Linked DNA regions of Homo sapiens: region 1 is linked to region 2. Evidence: fine-mapped expression QTL. Tissue or cell type: whole blood. Region 2 holds a variant in brackets; the other region holds the start of a gene. All regions are shown on one strand. Distances are from middle to middle.

Region 1 (8,175 bases), 44 kb after region 2:
GACTAACAGAATCTCCCAGTTCACCTGAATGATGCCAATTACAATGCACCGAAGAATATTTATATTTTAGTTTACTAGTAGTCTTAACAACTGCATATCAATTTTTTTTTTTTTTTTTTAAGAGTCAGGGTCTTGCTCTGATGCCTAGGTTGGGAGTACAGTTGTGCAGTCATAGCTCACTGCAGCCTCAAACTCCTGGGCCCAAGTGATCCTTCCACCTCAGCTTCCTGGGTAGCTAGGACTAGAGGCGTGAACCACTGTTCCCTGCCTTCCATGTTATTTTTAATGGGAAATGTGGTTTAACTTCAAAAAGTGCCCAACAGATGGAAAAATGAATGGCACAAACTAAAGATGCCTTGAAGCACAAAGAACTTCAAGCAACTTTGTTAAGCAAATTAAGGAAAATAATTTTTTGCAAAGATAAGAAACTTCTAAATGTAATCCCTGTCATTAACCATACAAAGCAAACTAAACAACCCCCACGTTTAAAAGAAAACAGCATTCTTGGCCGGCGCGGTGGCTCACGCCTGTAATCCCAGCACTTTAGAAGGCTGAGGAGGGTGAATTACTTGAGGCCAGGAGTTCAAGACCAGCCTGGCCAATACAGAGAAACCCCGCCTCTACTGAAAATGCAAAAATTAGCTGGGTGTGGTGGCACACACCTGTGGTTCCAGCTACTCCAGAGGCTGAGGCAGGAGAATCGCTTGAACCCAGGAGGCAGAAGTTGCAGTGAGCCAAGATTGTACCACTGCACTCCAGCCTGGGCGACACAGCAAGACACCGTCTCAAAAAAATAAAAATAAAAAAATAAAGCATTCTTAAGTTCTAATGTTCTATGTAGGAAACACTGTTATCAGAGGTGACTACAGCTGAAACTCTTAGAACTGGATAGTTTGTAAGCCAAGGAACAAATATCTGTAATCATATCCATGGTAAAAACTGGCTTGCATGAAAAACATTGTTTAGTAAAAACTGTATTGGTAGCTTCAGGTTTGATAGCAAAGAAAGAATCCAATTATTTTTGCATGTGGCTTCAAACATGTTTTAAGATATTTTTTCTCAAACTTAGTGTTACAAAGTACAGGTATAATGCAAAAAAAAGGTGAATCACAGTTTTATAGACAATAGTACTCTAAGTAAGTCACATTATATCTATTTCAGGCAAGACCATAAAAAGAATTTCAAAGTTCTAGTGTCTTCCAACATCTCTCAGAAAAAATGATGATGTGGCAATTCTGTGGATAAAAAACATGGGAAGGGAAGCGTGTTTTCACCCAGGAGAAACAGTTAAGGACCATGCATTTGCAGTCTTTTCCATGTCTTTAAGTTCTCACTGGCTGCTAAGATTTATTGCAAAATATTAAAGAACACTGAACCATGCATTATGAACTAAAGAGATTTCACTGCCTGCTGAACAAAGCCTAAAATAGTGCATTCATAACTTACAAGTCCTTTTCAAAAACCAGTAAGAAAAATACCATGTCTGATATAGTAATTTAAAGTCGTGGTTAAATTTGAGCACTTTGGAATATAAAGGCCTTTCATAAATATTAAACAATTTTATTATTTTAATGTTAACCAATAACAATTTTGTCCCCATGAAGTCTAACAGTCTTCATTCAACTGGAAAAACCAAACACAAAAACCGTTTCTCACAAAAAATGTTTACAAGATATTAATTCAGTTTAGATAATGAATTCATGCTTCTTGAAAGTTTTTATAACTTGAAAATAGTTATAAATAGTTCTAAAACTAAAACTACATTTGTCAAGTTTTCTTTTAAAAAGCTTAAAGAGTACCAGCAAACGACTCCTAAAGTAAAAAATCTTGTTAAACCTGCAGATTAACTCATTAACAGTTGTTTAATTCTCCCACTTGGTTTTCTAGCCATTAAACAGAAGCCAGTCACTTCACTTTTCATCGCAAAACAACTCGTGAATACCTGTCACTACCGTTAAGACACACAGCTTGCTTAAACTTACAGAATGAAAGGGATGCTTAGTCAGACTAATTATTTCACTTTACAAATTAGAAAGTCGAAGTTCACGACAAAACCTGTGCAGGAAGTCAAGTTGCCATATTTTTATATTCTGCTAAGTTATTTTCACACTTAATTGCTGGGTTAATTGTTGAAAGAATAAATCTATGTATTAAAAACACTCGAAGTAGGCCACATTTTTTCAGCACAATACGATGTTTCCACAAACAAAAAATTGTTCCATGGAAAGACAAGAAGAGGAAGAAGGCAGAAGGGAGACATCCCACAGGGATTCTTCAGTCTGCTTGGCAGCAGGGGCGGATAACGGGGGTGACGATGGGGTAGTTTTTCTGAAATCAAGCCTCCTAGTAACACATACGGGTCAAGCAGGGCGTGAACAAGGCAGATGACCATTGAACAAGACACTCTGATGGCTTAGATGTGTAGAAAACAAGGGTTTTGGCAAATGAATGAAGACGGACTCCCGGCGTGGAAGCTAAAGACACGTCAGCCCTGAGCGCGAGGGGCTGGGGGTGGAGCGGAGCCGGAGGTGGCCAAAAGAAACAGCCCGGCTGCGGCGCGCTCGGAGCGCAGCCGTGTCCAGCGCCTCCTCCTGCAGCCGAGGACCCTCCAGTTCTGGCCGCTCCTGCAGGCGAGGGTCCAGGGCAAGAGGAGCAAGCCCAGCCCTCGGCCGGCCACGAAGCAAGGTCGCCCGGGCACGGCCCCGCGCTCCGCGTGCAAGGGGCAGGCCGCAGCGGGGTCTCCAGCGCCCGCGGGGACCCCTGCTGCTACGAGCCTAGGCTTGGGGAGAGGGCGGAGAGAGGCCAGCGGGGTGGACGCGGACCCCAGGACCCGGAGCGGCCACCGCCTCCAACTTCAAACTTGCCATCACTGGCATCTCCTTCCTGGCCATCCCCTCCGCACACTCCCCCAGCCTCACCTCTGGGGCCGCCTCGGAACAAGACAGTGGCAGGGAACACGAGTAAGAGAAGCAGCAGCAAGCGGGGGAGGAGTCTCATGGCGCTGCCGGTCCAGTGTCCAGTTTCCGTCGGCTAAGGCTCTCGGCGGCTCCGGCGGTAATGGCGTTACTCTTCATCCGGGCTCCGGGCAGCGAGGGGCGGGACACGTACCGCGCACGGGCCTTTGCCACGCCCCTCCCTGGACCAGGGACCGCCGCCGACGTGGCTGCTCAGCGCGGAGAGGTGGGGAGAGCAGGCCACCGGGAAGTCACGTGGCCGGCTGCTGCCTCTTTGTGGCTCCCGCGAGAGTCCGCCTTCCGCCGCAGTTGCGACCCGGCAGCTTGCGGTTAGCCGTTCTTTCCGCCCAGTTCTTTACTTCCAATTAATTAGCATTGTCAGTGGTTACTTTATTTGAATGACGATCCTCTTGATAACGGCGATGTAAGGAACATGAGCTGCCTTTATGTGGCACTTAAAAGCAAAAAATTTTGTTGGAAGAGAGGACATTGTTCAAAGGAAAAACCATGAAAATACACAGTGGAAAATCTTTGTCCCCTGTCTGCCCACACCCTCTCCCATGGTTAAGTAATGACAATTCTTAAATTATTATTTTTGAGACGAAGTCTTGCTCTGTCGCCCAGGCCAGAGTTCAGTGGCACCATCTCTGTTCACCGCAACCTCCGCCTCCCGGGTTCAAGCGATTCTCCCGCCTCAGCCTCCTAAGCAGCTGGGACTACAGGCGCGCACCACTACGCCCGGCTAATTTTTGTATTTTTACTGGAGACGGGGGTTTCACCATGTTGGCCAGACTAATCTCAAACTCCTGACCTCAGGTGATCCACCCGCCTGGGTCTCTCAAAGTGCTGGGATTACAGGTGTGAGCCACTGCGCCTGGCCAGCAATTCTTAAATTCGTATGTGACATTCCAGAATTATAAGTCACCTAAACAGTGTTTTGGTATGTAGTCAGCATTTGTAACTATACAATAGGTGCAGCAATGGCTGTCCAGTTTTCTTTAGTTTCCTTTTCATCTATTTTGGATTTGAGTTGCTGGAGTAATATAGCAGTTCATGAAATTAATCTGAATATTAAGTAATCTTGGTCTGGACCAGAGTGAGATGTCATAAAGATGAGGAAATAAATCATATGCTTACTATTGTCAATCACCTCCTTAGAGCTGTGCTTTTTCATTTAATTTTCTAAACCTCTCTATGAGCTGGATATTATTTACTGAGGAGAAAACAGACCCAGAGAGGTTAGTAATTTACTCAAAGCTTCAAAACGCTAGCAAACGGCAGATGCAAGATTTGAACAAGGCTATCTGGTTCCAGATTCCATACACTACTGACCTAGGACATTTGCTGTTCTACTCCTGCATTGTTTCCGCTTCAGGTCTCCTTGTCCTGGGGGCTGTAAATGCAGCTTGGACCCACTGCCACCACTACCTACAGTCTGCTAAAGTCACAGCCTGATGGTGCTGGGCTGAATCAACCAAATTCCACTCTGCCAGGCCACCAGTGGCACCGCTGCTGTGTTGCTGCTGCTACTAGGGCGCCCAGCATAAGTGGAGGGCCTCCTCTCACTTTGCTGCTGCCTCTGCTCCTGTGCACGCTACCAGTGTTGCCACTCTATGTCAGAGCTGTGTCTGGAATAGGGTTCTTGGTCTCACTGACTTTAAGACTGAAACCGCAGACCCTCGTGCTGAGTGTTACAGTTCTTAAAGTCCAGAGTTTGTTCCTTCATCATGTTCGGATGTGTTCCGAGTTTCTTCCTTCTGGTGGGTTCATGGTCTCACTGGCTCAGGAGTGAAGCTACTAGACCATCGCAGTGAGTGTTACAGCTGTTAAGGTGTCCATTCCTCCTGGTGGGTTCATAGTCTCGGTGGCTTTAGGAGTGAAGCTGCAGACCTTCGCGGTGAGTGTTACAGCTCATAAAGGCAGTGAGCAGCAGCAAGATTTATTGCAAAAAACAAAGCTTCTGAGAGGTGACAGCATGCTGGCAGTACTCAGCCCTCGCTCGCTCTCGGCGCCTCCTCTGCCTGGGCCCCCACTTTGGTGGCACTTGAGGAGCTCTTCAGCCCACCGCTGCACTGTGGGAGCCCCTTTCTGGGCTGGCCAAGGCCGGAGCCAGCTCCCTCAGCTTGCCGGGAAGGTGTGGAGAGAGGCGTGGGCGGGCGGGAACTGGGGTTACGCGCGGTGCTTGCCAGCCAGTGCGAGTTCCGGGTGGGCGTGGGCTTGGCGGGCCCTGCAGTGGGAGCGGCCAACTGGGCCAGGCGGGGGGCAGTGAGGGGCTTAGAACCTGGGCCAGCAGCTGCTGTGCTCGATTTCTCACCGGGCCTTAGCTGCCTTCCCGCGGGGCAGGGCTCGGGACCTGCAGCCCACCATGTCTGAGCCTCCCCCAACCCCATGGGCTTCTGTGCAGCCGGAATCTCCCCGACCAGCGCCACCCCCTGCTGCACGGTGCCCAGTTCCTTCCACCACCCAAGGGCTGATCAGTACAGGTGCACAGGCATGGGACTGGCAGACAGCTCCACCTGCAGCCCCAGTACGGGTTCCACGGGGTGAAGCCAGCTGGGCTTCTGAGTCTGGTGGAGACGTGGAGAACCTTTATGTCTAGCTCAGGGATTGTAAACACACCAATCAGCACCCTGTGTCTAGCTCAGGCTTTGTGAATGCACCAATCGACACTTTGTATCTAGCTACTCTGGTGGGACCTTGGAGAACCTTTGCGTCCACGCTCTGTATCTAGCTAATCTAGTGGGGACGTGGAGAACCTTTGTGTCTAGCTCAGGGATTGTAAACGCACCAATCAGTGCCCAGTCAAAACAGGCCACTCGGCTCTACCAATCAGCAGGGTGTGGGTGGGGCCAGATAAGAATAAAAGCAGGCTGCCCTGAGCTTAGCAGCGACAACAGGCTCCAGTTTCTTTCCATGCTGGGAAAATATCTGTTCTTTTGCTCTTTAAGCTCATATTGCCTTTATGAGTTATAACACTCATTATGAAGGTCTGCAGCTTCGCTCCTGAAGCTAGGGAAATCACGAACCCGCCAGGAAGAATGAATAACTCAAGATATGCCACCTTAAGAGCTGTAACGCTCACTGTGGAGGTCTGTGGGTTTACTCTTGGGCTAGTGAGATTACAAGCCCACCAGAAGGAAGAAACTCCGGATACACTGCCTTTAAGAACTGTAGTACTCACTGTGAGGGTCTGTAGCTTCATTCTTTAAGTCAGGGAGGCTAATGAGCCCCCAATTCTGGACACTGGAGTGGGACCTGAGCAGGTTGCCACTGATTCAGGCAGCCTGCTTTTTTTTCCGTTTATTTGGCTTCACATTCTGCTGGTTGGTTTATTTTAGAGCTGATTGGTGTGTTTTCAATTGGTGAGCTAGACACAAAGTTCTCCATGTCCCCACTGGGTTAGCTATACACAGAGTGTCAATTGGTGTGTTCACAAACCCTGGGCTAGACACAGTGCTGATTGGTACATTCACAATCCCTTAGTTAGACATTCTCCAAATCCCCACCAGATTAGAGTGCCAATTGGTGCATTCACAAACCCTGAGCTAGATACAGTGTGCTGATTGGTGTGTTTATAAACCTTGAGTTAGATACAGAGTGCTGATTGGTGTGTTTATAATCCCTCAGCTAGGCAGAAAGATTCTCTAAATCTCCACTAGATTCAGGAGCCCAGCTGGTTTCACCCAGTGGATCCCACACCGGGGCTGCAGGTGGAGCTGCCTGCGAGTCCCGCGCGGTGCGCCAGCACTCCTCAGCCCTTGGGTGGTCGATGGGACTGGGCGCTGTGGAGCTGGGGGTGGCGCTCGTCGGGGAGGCTCAGGCATGGTAGGCTGCAGGTCCCGAGCCTTGCCCCACGGCGGAGCAGGTAAGGCCTAGCGAGACATAGAGCACAGCAGCTGCTGGCCCAGGTGCTAAGCCCTTCACTGCCCGGACCCGCTGGCCGCTCCGAGTGCGGGGCCCGCCAAGCCCACGCCCACCCGGAACTCGCGCTGGCCCACAAGCGCCGCGCGCAGCCCTGGTTCCCGCCCGCGCCTCTCCCTCCACACCTCCCCGCAAGCTGAGGGAGCCGCTTCTGGCCTTGGCCAGCCCAGAAAGGGGCTCCCACAGTGCAGCGGCGGGCTGAAGGGCTCCTCAAGCGCTGCTGGAGTGGGCGCCAAGGCCGAGGAGGCCCCCAGAGCGAGCAAGGACTGCCAGCACGCTGTCCCTGCTTTGAGGTGACTGTACCTTACAGAGTTCTCCACTGACTCAGCATAATCTCCCTCCCCTACTTTGAGGCACCCTTTCATGAGTTTCAAATGAGACCTGCTCTGAGCTTGTTGATGTCTGACAGGTGTTTTGACAAATACATCTTTCTGTTTAACTTGCTACTCTCTCCTAACACCAAAAACAATTGATGGGAACTGTAATAGATGGTGAAGTTACAGACTTCATGCTGTACTCAAAATCACACCTGCTCTCCATCACGGCACCACCGTGTCTTACTGGCTTGCTTTCCCCATTCAGAGGACTGATTACTGAAGGGGACGACGTCTCATTCTTTATGGTAAAGAGATTCCTAGTAGGTCTGTCTCACCGGTTCTCAGATGTTTAGACGTAGCCTGAACATGTAAGGATAATTTAGTTTAGGCTTAACCTGTGACTTCCACTCCAATGATGATGTCATCAATCGATTACTATCGGATTTTATTTGGGACTTGAATTTTACACAACCAGCTACTATTGGTACAACAGGAAAAATAAAGTGTGCCTACTCGAGATATTACTGATGTGATGAATTTAGGGAAAATAACATGTAAACAGAAAACAGAAGACCTGTGTGACTGTCCAATTAGTATTAAAAAATGACAGCTGTGATCAAGGAAGTAAGGGGCTCACCCTGACCAGTGTGCTCACCAATTCTGCATCACTGTGATCCACATTCTTCCCGTAATAAGCAGCTTTTCCTTGGTGCCCACCCAGAGCTCTCTGCCCTACTTGGTTCCAATCCTTAATTTATGGAATTATGAATTCCATTTACTAATTTATTTAAGTCTTTCCAAATCTCTCCCCATGTCTGTACCAATCTCTTTGAAGGGATTTCTTTTCAGGGAATATTCCATATCCTGGTGACTCTCCTTCACAGACCTCAGACAAATCCGTAGTTGATTCTCCACATCTGTCATTTCATTCCCTTAGAATGTGTAAAAGCAGAGGATTCTTTCCCTTTGATTACTTAAGATTT
Region 2 (8,194 bases):
TGAGAGGCTGTTTCTTTTTTTTTTTTTTTTTGAGACAGAGTCTTGCTCTGTCGCCCAGAGACTGAAGTGCAGTGGCAGGATCTCAGCTGAGAGGCTGTTTCTTATAGCTGCTCTTCCTAGATGATTGGAGTTGACTTCTTACTAGCCAACCCCTCACTACTCTAAACCTGTTACAGTTATGTCAAACTTCCCCCATTCAAATTAATATGTGGTTTCCTCTCTTGCTTGGTACAGCATTGGTACCATGAGTAGTCCCAGCCATAGACCTGCAAAGATGGGATTTGGAAGCTGGTTGTGCCTTTGGGCTTGAGCACAGTGCTGAGCTCCTTGCTGGTGGTACATTGGGTTCCTACTGGGAACAGACTTATCATTCCCAGGGGCCCTTCTTCCAATCCTGTGTAGCCTGCTGATAAATGATCACCCCTAGATCCAGGACGTGACCAAGCCCCACGGGTGATGGCAGCACAGCCTTCCAAGGGACATCTGGGGTTTCCACCTGTGACCTTGGTAACACTGGAAGCATTTCTGGGTGCTGGAATCAAGGCACTGCATGGATGCCCAGAAATGCTCCTAAGTGGCCTCAGAGCCACAGGTCTCTGCTGCACCGCTTAGGAGATGGCATCACCCTGAGCAAGGGACCCTGGCGGGGACCACTGGGCGGCGTGACCCAGGCTCACCCATCTTCAGATCGGGGCACTGGGTGTCTGTCATATGTCCAGAATACCATACTACTGTCACAGGCCGGGCTTGAAACCAAGGATGGGCACACAGAAGAGAAAGGCACATCTGGTCAAATCAAAGTGCTGCAAATATTGCGACTGTCCCGGCACCTCAGTCTCAGGAGAGCCAGTGAGGGCTTCCTTCAGTCTGGCTGATGCCTCATCTCTCTCCAATCCATCTTTTTCTCAGAGGCCCCTGTACCAGCATCACCCATCAGGGAACTGATCAGCAAGCAATTCTGGGCCCAATTCCAGGCCGACTGACTCAGAATTTCGGGGGTGGAGCCCAGCAGTCTGTGTGTGGACAAGTCCTGCAGGCAACTGTGCTGTGTGGTGAAGTGCAACAATTACTCATGTGCCAGGGGCAAATCCTGGCAGGCCCAGCCTGCAAATCACTGAATGCCCCCGCACCCCCGCTGGCTGACAGAGGCTTACCACCCGCCCCCAACACACACACTGTCAATCTCTGAATTCCCATGTAGAGCTTGTTTTAAAATGCAGCTTCCTGGGTCGGCTCCCTGAGATTCTGCTGGAGTAGGTATGTGTGTGTGTTCTGGGTGGTTCTGATGCGTGTGGCTCACAGGCTGAGTGTGCGATGCCTCTCTCTGCCTGTGACTCTGTGTGCACGTGTGTGCCTCTGTCAGGTGGCAAGTGAGCACTGCGTCTCCGCCCTCTCCTGTGTTCGCCTCAGATGCAGCGCACCTCTGCTCCTGTTGCCTCCCAGGTCCCCTGTGTCCTTCTTACCTTCACCTTTTTCCAAAATCCCCACTCCCATTCTCAAAGGCTCAGCTCAAAGATCTCCTCCTCCTGAAGCCTCTCGCCCCCCTCCCCACTCCCACCCACCACCCCCAATATGTTCTTGCTGCAAGTCCATAATATTAGTTATGGGCCCGGCTAGTGTGAAGACAGGCAGCGGCTGTCTTACTCAGCTGTGACTCCCCAGAGCCTGGCACTCAGCAAGAGATTCATACTTATTTGTAGGCCTTTCAATTCAGTTTATTTCAGTCTAATCTGATTCAGGGCAATTCAACTCCACTCACGTCAGCACAAGGGAAGAGCGCCCCGGAGCCCACAATGGGCACCAACACACAGACAGTGGCCTCAGGCAGCCCGGCTGGAAGGAGCCCACTGGTCTCACAGGCGTAACCCGTGTTTGCAGGCATAACTCGTGCGCACGTGTGGCACTGCTCGGCCTGGGCACCGAGCGCTCCCCGTGCCTCAGGTCCCTCCAGACATGCCCCCTCCACCGCCCCTCCTGAGGACGCTCATCTTTGAAAATGTCCTAAGACGGAACTGGAAGCTCTAAGGTACGCGTTCCAACCATCACGTGGCAGGGGCTGGTGGGCTTCACGCAGAGCCCCCTGTCTTCTGGCCTCATTCACCATCAGTGTAGTGGGTGGGGACAGCTGACCCAAGGGCCCTACTGCATGGGTCGCACGGTTCAGCCAGTCCTTGCTGGCGGGACCTGCATCCCCATCCTACTGGCTGGCAGAGTAGGACTGGTTTCCTGGGACATCTCCACCCAGAAACAGCACACGACAGCTGTTATTCATCAGCCACAAAGCCCTAGTGACACAGCCATGCCCAGCGGTGACTTCCCAGAGCCATCCGGCGGAGGGCCCGGTTGAACAGGCGGCTGCTGTCCTAAGTTTCACAAATTGCAAAACGATGCAGAAAAGATGGCCGGGTCTCCAGGAACGGCTGTGCTGGGGGATGTCCTGAAGCAGCCACGGCGGAAGCGCTGGCCTTGCACCTGGAGACTGCGAGGCGCCCGAGCTGCAGGAGCGGCCCGATGTCATCAGTGCGTCTCCCTCCTCCTGCGTCTGAAAGAGCAAAGGGAGACAGTGACCTCCTGAGAGGCTTCCAGACGCCCCGCCAGGCACTTCCCTACTGGTGCATGAAGTGTGTGGCTGGACAGAGGCAGCAGGGCGGGGGGCCCAAGACTCTCTGCTGCTCTGTCCAGGCCAAATAGTTCCCACAATCAAAGACCCAGAGACTCTCCCCTCACACCCATCCACCCTCCCATGAAGAAACACATGGAAAAATCTAGGATGGGGTTCCAAGTTTCTAAAACTGGTCCATTCTGTGATTCCCCAAAGGAAGGATAAATATCATGCTTTTTTCTTGGGATTTGATCAGAGTTTCATGCTTTCAGTGAGAATCTGGCATAAAAAGAAACCCCAACATTTAGCCATGCTTCACGAGTAAAGCAGTGAAAACTGCACACAAAGACCTATCTGGAGAGATTTGGAGGTTTCTGCTTTGTAACTCAATCAGCTCCGAAATCTCACTCATTCTTTCATTCACTCAAGAAATCTTAATATATTAAGTGCCTACTATGTGCCAGGCCCATAGGAGCTGGGGCACCATCATGAGCAAGATGAGGTCCCCTGAGCCTTGCAGTCAAGCGGGGGAAGAGACACACACCAAGATGGCTTGGTCAGTGCAGGTGAGGCACTGTACCCAGGACTCAGGTGAGGGAACAGACACCTACCCTAACTGTGGGTGCCTGGAGGGGTCTATGCAAGCTTTCTTAGAAGAGGGGTCATGAATACGGAGGTTGTAAAAAATAAATAAGACCCCACCATTCCCAAGTCATCAGTATCCACATCACCAGTAACGGGGCCAACCCAGCAGCACCATGTGGTCCTTGAGATGCTGAGCTGGGAAGGCCAGAGCATTGCTGCAGGGCTGTTCTTGCCAAAAAGGCAGAATCTGAATCTAATCCAGAGGAAGGATCACACAAACTCTCCCTGGGGTACTCTCTGCAAAACAACTAGCCTGCGCTCTTTAAAAATGCCAGGGACGCTGAAAGAGAGGCTGTTCCAGAACAAAGGAAACCAAGACATGACAACTAAACATACTGCGTGATCCCAAACCAGGAAAAAAAATAGCCATCAAGAGGATTGCTGAGACAATTAGTGAAATCTGAGCACAGCCTGTAGTTTAGAAACCATTACAAAAATGTTAAATTTCCTGACTTTTATAACTGTAGTTTAGTTATGTAAGAGAATGTTTGGGCCGGGTA[C/T]GGTGGCTCACGCCTGTAATCCCAGCATTTTGGGAGGCCGAGGCGGGTGGATCACCTGAGGTCGGGAGTTTGAGACCAGCCTGACCAACATGGAGAAATCCCATGTCTACTAAAAGTACAAAATTAGCCGGGTGTGATGGCGCATGCCTGTAATCCCAGCTACGGGAGGCTGAGGCAGGAGAATTGCTTGAACCTGGGAGGCGGAGGTTGCGGTGAGCCGAGATCACGCCACTGCACTCCAGCCTGGACAACAAGAGCAAAACTGTCTCTGAAAAAAAAAAAAAAAAAGAATGTTTGTTCTTAGGAGGTAAACACTGGTGGATTTGGGGGAAGGGGAAATAGCATATCTGCAATTCACTCCCAGAGAGCTCAGAAAAATATACATATGGTGGGTGTGTGCATTTGTATATGGTGAAATGCTAACCACGATCTGGGTGAAGGTGAAGGGCACAGGGAATTTCTTTATACTATTTTGTAACTTTTGTGTAAGTTTGAAGGTGGCAGAGAGTCTGGGAGAGAGGGCAGCCTGTGCAGGCAGGAGGTGGCACCAGTGTGGTGTGCACAGGGAATGAGCTGCTGGGCTGGAGTACAAATTCACAGCAGGACCAGTGAGACAGAAGGGCCAAAGGGCAGGCAGAGGCTAATGGTGGAGAACTTTGTCCTGATGGTTGTGGGGAACCTTTAGAAGGTTTCCAGCAGGAGAGAGCAACAGGGTCAGAATGCTATTTGACAATGACCACAGAAGCAGCTCAGGTGGTGGGCTGGAAGGGGACCAGACTGGCAGCTGGGAGAGTGGGGCAGGGCTCTCACAGCACTGCAGCCAAAGGCGGGCACCACGCCCACACGGGGCAGCACACGGGAACCAAGAGTTGCCACACATTCCTAAGGCCCAGAGCAGGGCAGGGCCGCCGAAGAGCTGGATATAAAAGACTGTTAAGAGGCAGGAGGATGGAGGGGGTCTGCACAAAGGGAGTTTCTTCTGGAAGCGATGGCACCAACCGAGACAGGAAAAACTGCAGGAAAAAGTGGTTTGGGGCTGGGCGCGGTGTCTCACGCCTGTAATCCCAACACTTTGGGAGTCTGTGGCGGGTGGATCACCTGAGGTCGGGAATTCGAGACCAGCCTGACCAACATGGAGAAACCCTGTCTTTACTGAAAACATAAAAAATTAGCCAGGCATAGTGGTGCATGCCTGTAATCCCAGCTACTCGGGAGGCTGAGGCGGGAGAATCGCTTGAACCCGGGAGGTGGAGGTTTTGGTGAGCCAAGATCGCACCACTGCACTCCAGCCTGGGCAACAAGAGCAAAACTCTGTCTCCAGAAAAAAAAAGAAAAGTGGTTTAGGGAAGGAAAATGATCAATCCCCATATGGAGTTCCAGGTGCCTCTGGGATACGGGTGTTTGGCTGGGTCTACCGTTCGCTGGAGAGAGTGGGGGCACTCCTGGGGCCAGCCTACCCACCTCCAGATCCTGGCTACCTTTCTCACTAGCTGGGCAGCCTTACCGTTCTATACCTCAATTTGCTCAGCTCTAAAATGGTGATATCATAACCTGTCTCAGATAGAGAACGGTATGAGTGAAGACAAGTCAGATGCTCTCAGATAGAGAACGGGATGAGTGAACACAAGTCAGATGCTCTCAGATAGAGAACGGTATGAGTGAACACAAGTCAGATGCTCTCAGATAGAGAACGGTATGAGTGAACACAAGTCAGATGCTCTCAGAGAACGGTATGAGTGAACACAAGTCAGATGCTCTCAGATAGAGAACGGGATGAGTGAACACAAGTCAGATGCTCTCAGAGAACGGTATGAGTGAACACAAGTCAGATGCTCTCAGATAGAGAACGGGATGAGTGAACACAAGTCAGATGCTCTCAGGTAGAGAACGGTATGAGTGAACACAAGTCAGATGCTCTCAGGTAGAGAACGGGATGAGTGAACACAAGTCAGATGCTCTCAGATAGAGAACGGTATGAGTGAACACAAGTCAGATGCTCTCAGATAGAGAATGGTATGAGTGAACACAAGTCAGATGCTCTCAGATAGAGAACGGTATGAGTGAACACAAGTCAGATGCTCTCAGAGAACGGGATGAGTGAACACAAGTCAAATGCTCTCAGATAGAGAACGGGATGAGTGAACACAAGTCAAATGCTCTCAGATAGAGAACGGTATGAGTGAACACAAGTCAAATGCTCTCAGAGAACGGGATGAGTGAACACAAGTCAGATGCTCTCAGATAGAGAACGGGATGAGTGAAGACAAGTCAGATGCTCTCAGATAGAGAACGGTATGAGTGAAGACAAGTCAGATGCTCTCAGAGAACGGTATGAGTGAAGACAAGTCAGATGCTCTCAGATAGAGAACGGTATGAGTGAACACAAGTCAGATGCTCTCAGATAGAGAACGGTATGAGTGAACACAAGTCAGATGCTCTCAGAGAACGGTATGAGTGAACACAAGTCAGATGCTCTCAGATAGAGAACGGGATGAGTGAACACAAGTCAGATGCTCTCAGATAGAGAACGGGATGAGTGAACACAAGTCAGATGCTCTCAGATAGAGAACGGTATGAGTGAACACAAGTCAGATGCTCTCAGGTAGAGAACGGGATGAGTGAACACAAGTCAGATGCTCTCAGGTAGAGAACGGTATGAGTGAACACAAGTCAGATGCTCTCAGGTAGAGAACGGTATGAGTGAACACAAGTCAGATGCTCTCAGGTAGAGAACGGTATGAGTGAACACAAGTCAGATGCTCTCAGGTAGAGAACGGTATGAGTGAACACAAGTCAGATGCTCTCAGAGAACGGTATGAGTGAACACAAGTCAGATGCTCTCAGGTAGAGAATGGTATGAGTGAACACAAGTCAGATGCTCTCAGATAGAGAACGGTATGAGTGAACACAAGTCAGATGCTCTCAGATAGAGAACGGTATGAGTGAACACAAGTCAGATGCTCTCAGATAGAGAACGGTATGAGTGAACACAAGTCAGATGCTCTCAGATAGAGAACGGTATGAGTGAACACAAGTCAGATGCTCTCAGAGAACGGTATGAGTGAACACAAGTCAGATGCTCTCAGAGAACGGTATGAGTGAACACAAGTCAGATGCTCTCAGGTAGAGAATGGTATGAGTGAACACAAGTCAGATGCTCTCAGATAGAGAACGGGATGAGTGAACACAAGTCAGATGCTCTCAGATAGAGAACGGTATGAGTGAACACAAGTCAGATGCTCTCAGATAGAGAACGGTATGAGTGAACACAAGTCAAATGCTCTCAGAGAACGGGATGAGTGAACACAAGTCAAATGCTCTCAGATAGAGAACGGGATGAGTGAACACAAGTCAAATGCTTTGAGGGTCCCAGGTCAGAGCTAAGTGCTCAGTAAGGGGCAGCAGCCCCCACCCATTTCAGGTGACCTTGCAGCTATGAAACAAAGGGTGAGAAGTATCAGGAAGGGGTCACGGAACACGGCTGGGCAGCAGGAGCCTCATCAGACACAGGCTCCCCCCGCCCTCGGCGTGCTGGTGCCAGCCTGCCACATGGCTGCTTAGGGACGTCGTGGCTGTCAGCCACAGCTTGCCCTGGGTAACGGTGTGCAGCACGCTTGTGGGAAAACCAGCAGCACTTGTTAAAATACAGACTCCTGGGCCCCAGCCCAGTGTCAGAGCCTCCCTGGGGATGGCATCCTGAACCTTGCACTTCAAGGAAGCCCCACCCTTTACCCCCAGTCTCGGGGCACTTTGCAAGTGCCACAGAGCAGGAAGGAATTGCTGAAGTAACGTGTTTTGGAGGGAGAGAGCTAATGGCCATCATTTCCATCTTTTATCTCAGGTCATCACTTGGACCCTTTAATTTACATAATTCAATAGAATCTGTAAGGTTTCAAGGAGCCAGACAATTATCTTAATAAAGGCAGTGTTTCCTTGAAAACAAAATTGCTCTATGGAAATATATATATTATATATATATTATATATAATATATATATATATAATATATATTATATATATATATATAATATATATATAATATATATTATATATATATAATATATATATATATTTTTTTTTAAGACAGAGTCTCGCTCTGTCGCCCAGGCTGGAGTGCAGTGGCTCAATCTTGGCTCACTGCAACCTCCGCCTCCCAGGTTCAAGCAATTCTCCTTCTTCAGGCTCCTGAGTAGCTGAGATTACAGGCACGTGCCACCATGCCCAGCTAATTTTTGTATTTTTAGTACAGACGGGGTTTCACCATGTTGGCCAGGCTGGTCTCAAACTCCTGACCTCATGATCTGCCCGCCTCGGCCTCCCGAAGTGCTGGGATTAAGAGCCACTGCGCCCGGCCCGGAATATAGTCTTTAAAACACCCATGTAGGCTGCAGGACATTTGACCTTGGCCTGGATAACATGATTGTTCACAAAGAAAGAAGTGATAGCTC

The links. PIP is the estimated chance that this variant, and not a neighbour inherited with it, causes the effect.
Region 1: SSR1 starts here. The variant in region 2 is fine-mapped to the expression of SSR1 in whole blood (TOPMed, PIP 0.99).

The regions. Positions count from the first base shown.
Region 1 is chr6:7,310,124-7,318,298 of GRCh38, forward strand. It overlaps SSR1 (signal sequence receptor subunit 1), which reads right to left and starts at 3,076. Exons shown (of 8, transcript NM_003144.5): 1 at 2,919-3,076. The coding sequence starts at 2,997. RefSeq lists enhancers at 2,240-3,108, 3,109-3,975, 3,312-3,381, 3,392-3,451 and silencers at 2,532-2,581, 2,712-2,821.
Region 2 is chr6:7,266,613-7,274,806 of GRCh38, forward strand. No RefSeq gene overlaps it. Among named protein-coding and RNA genes, the nearest start is that of SSR1, 42 kb to the right of the region's middle. RefSeq lists enhancers at 724-1,225, 6,820-7,321 and a silencer at 804-1,098. The variant C/T (reference allele first, on the strand shown) is at 3,748.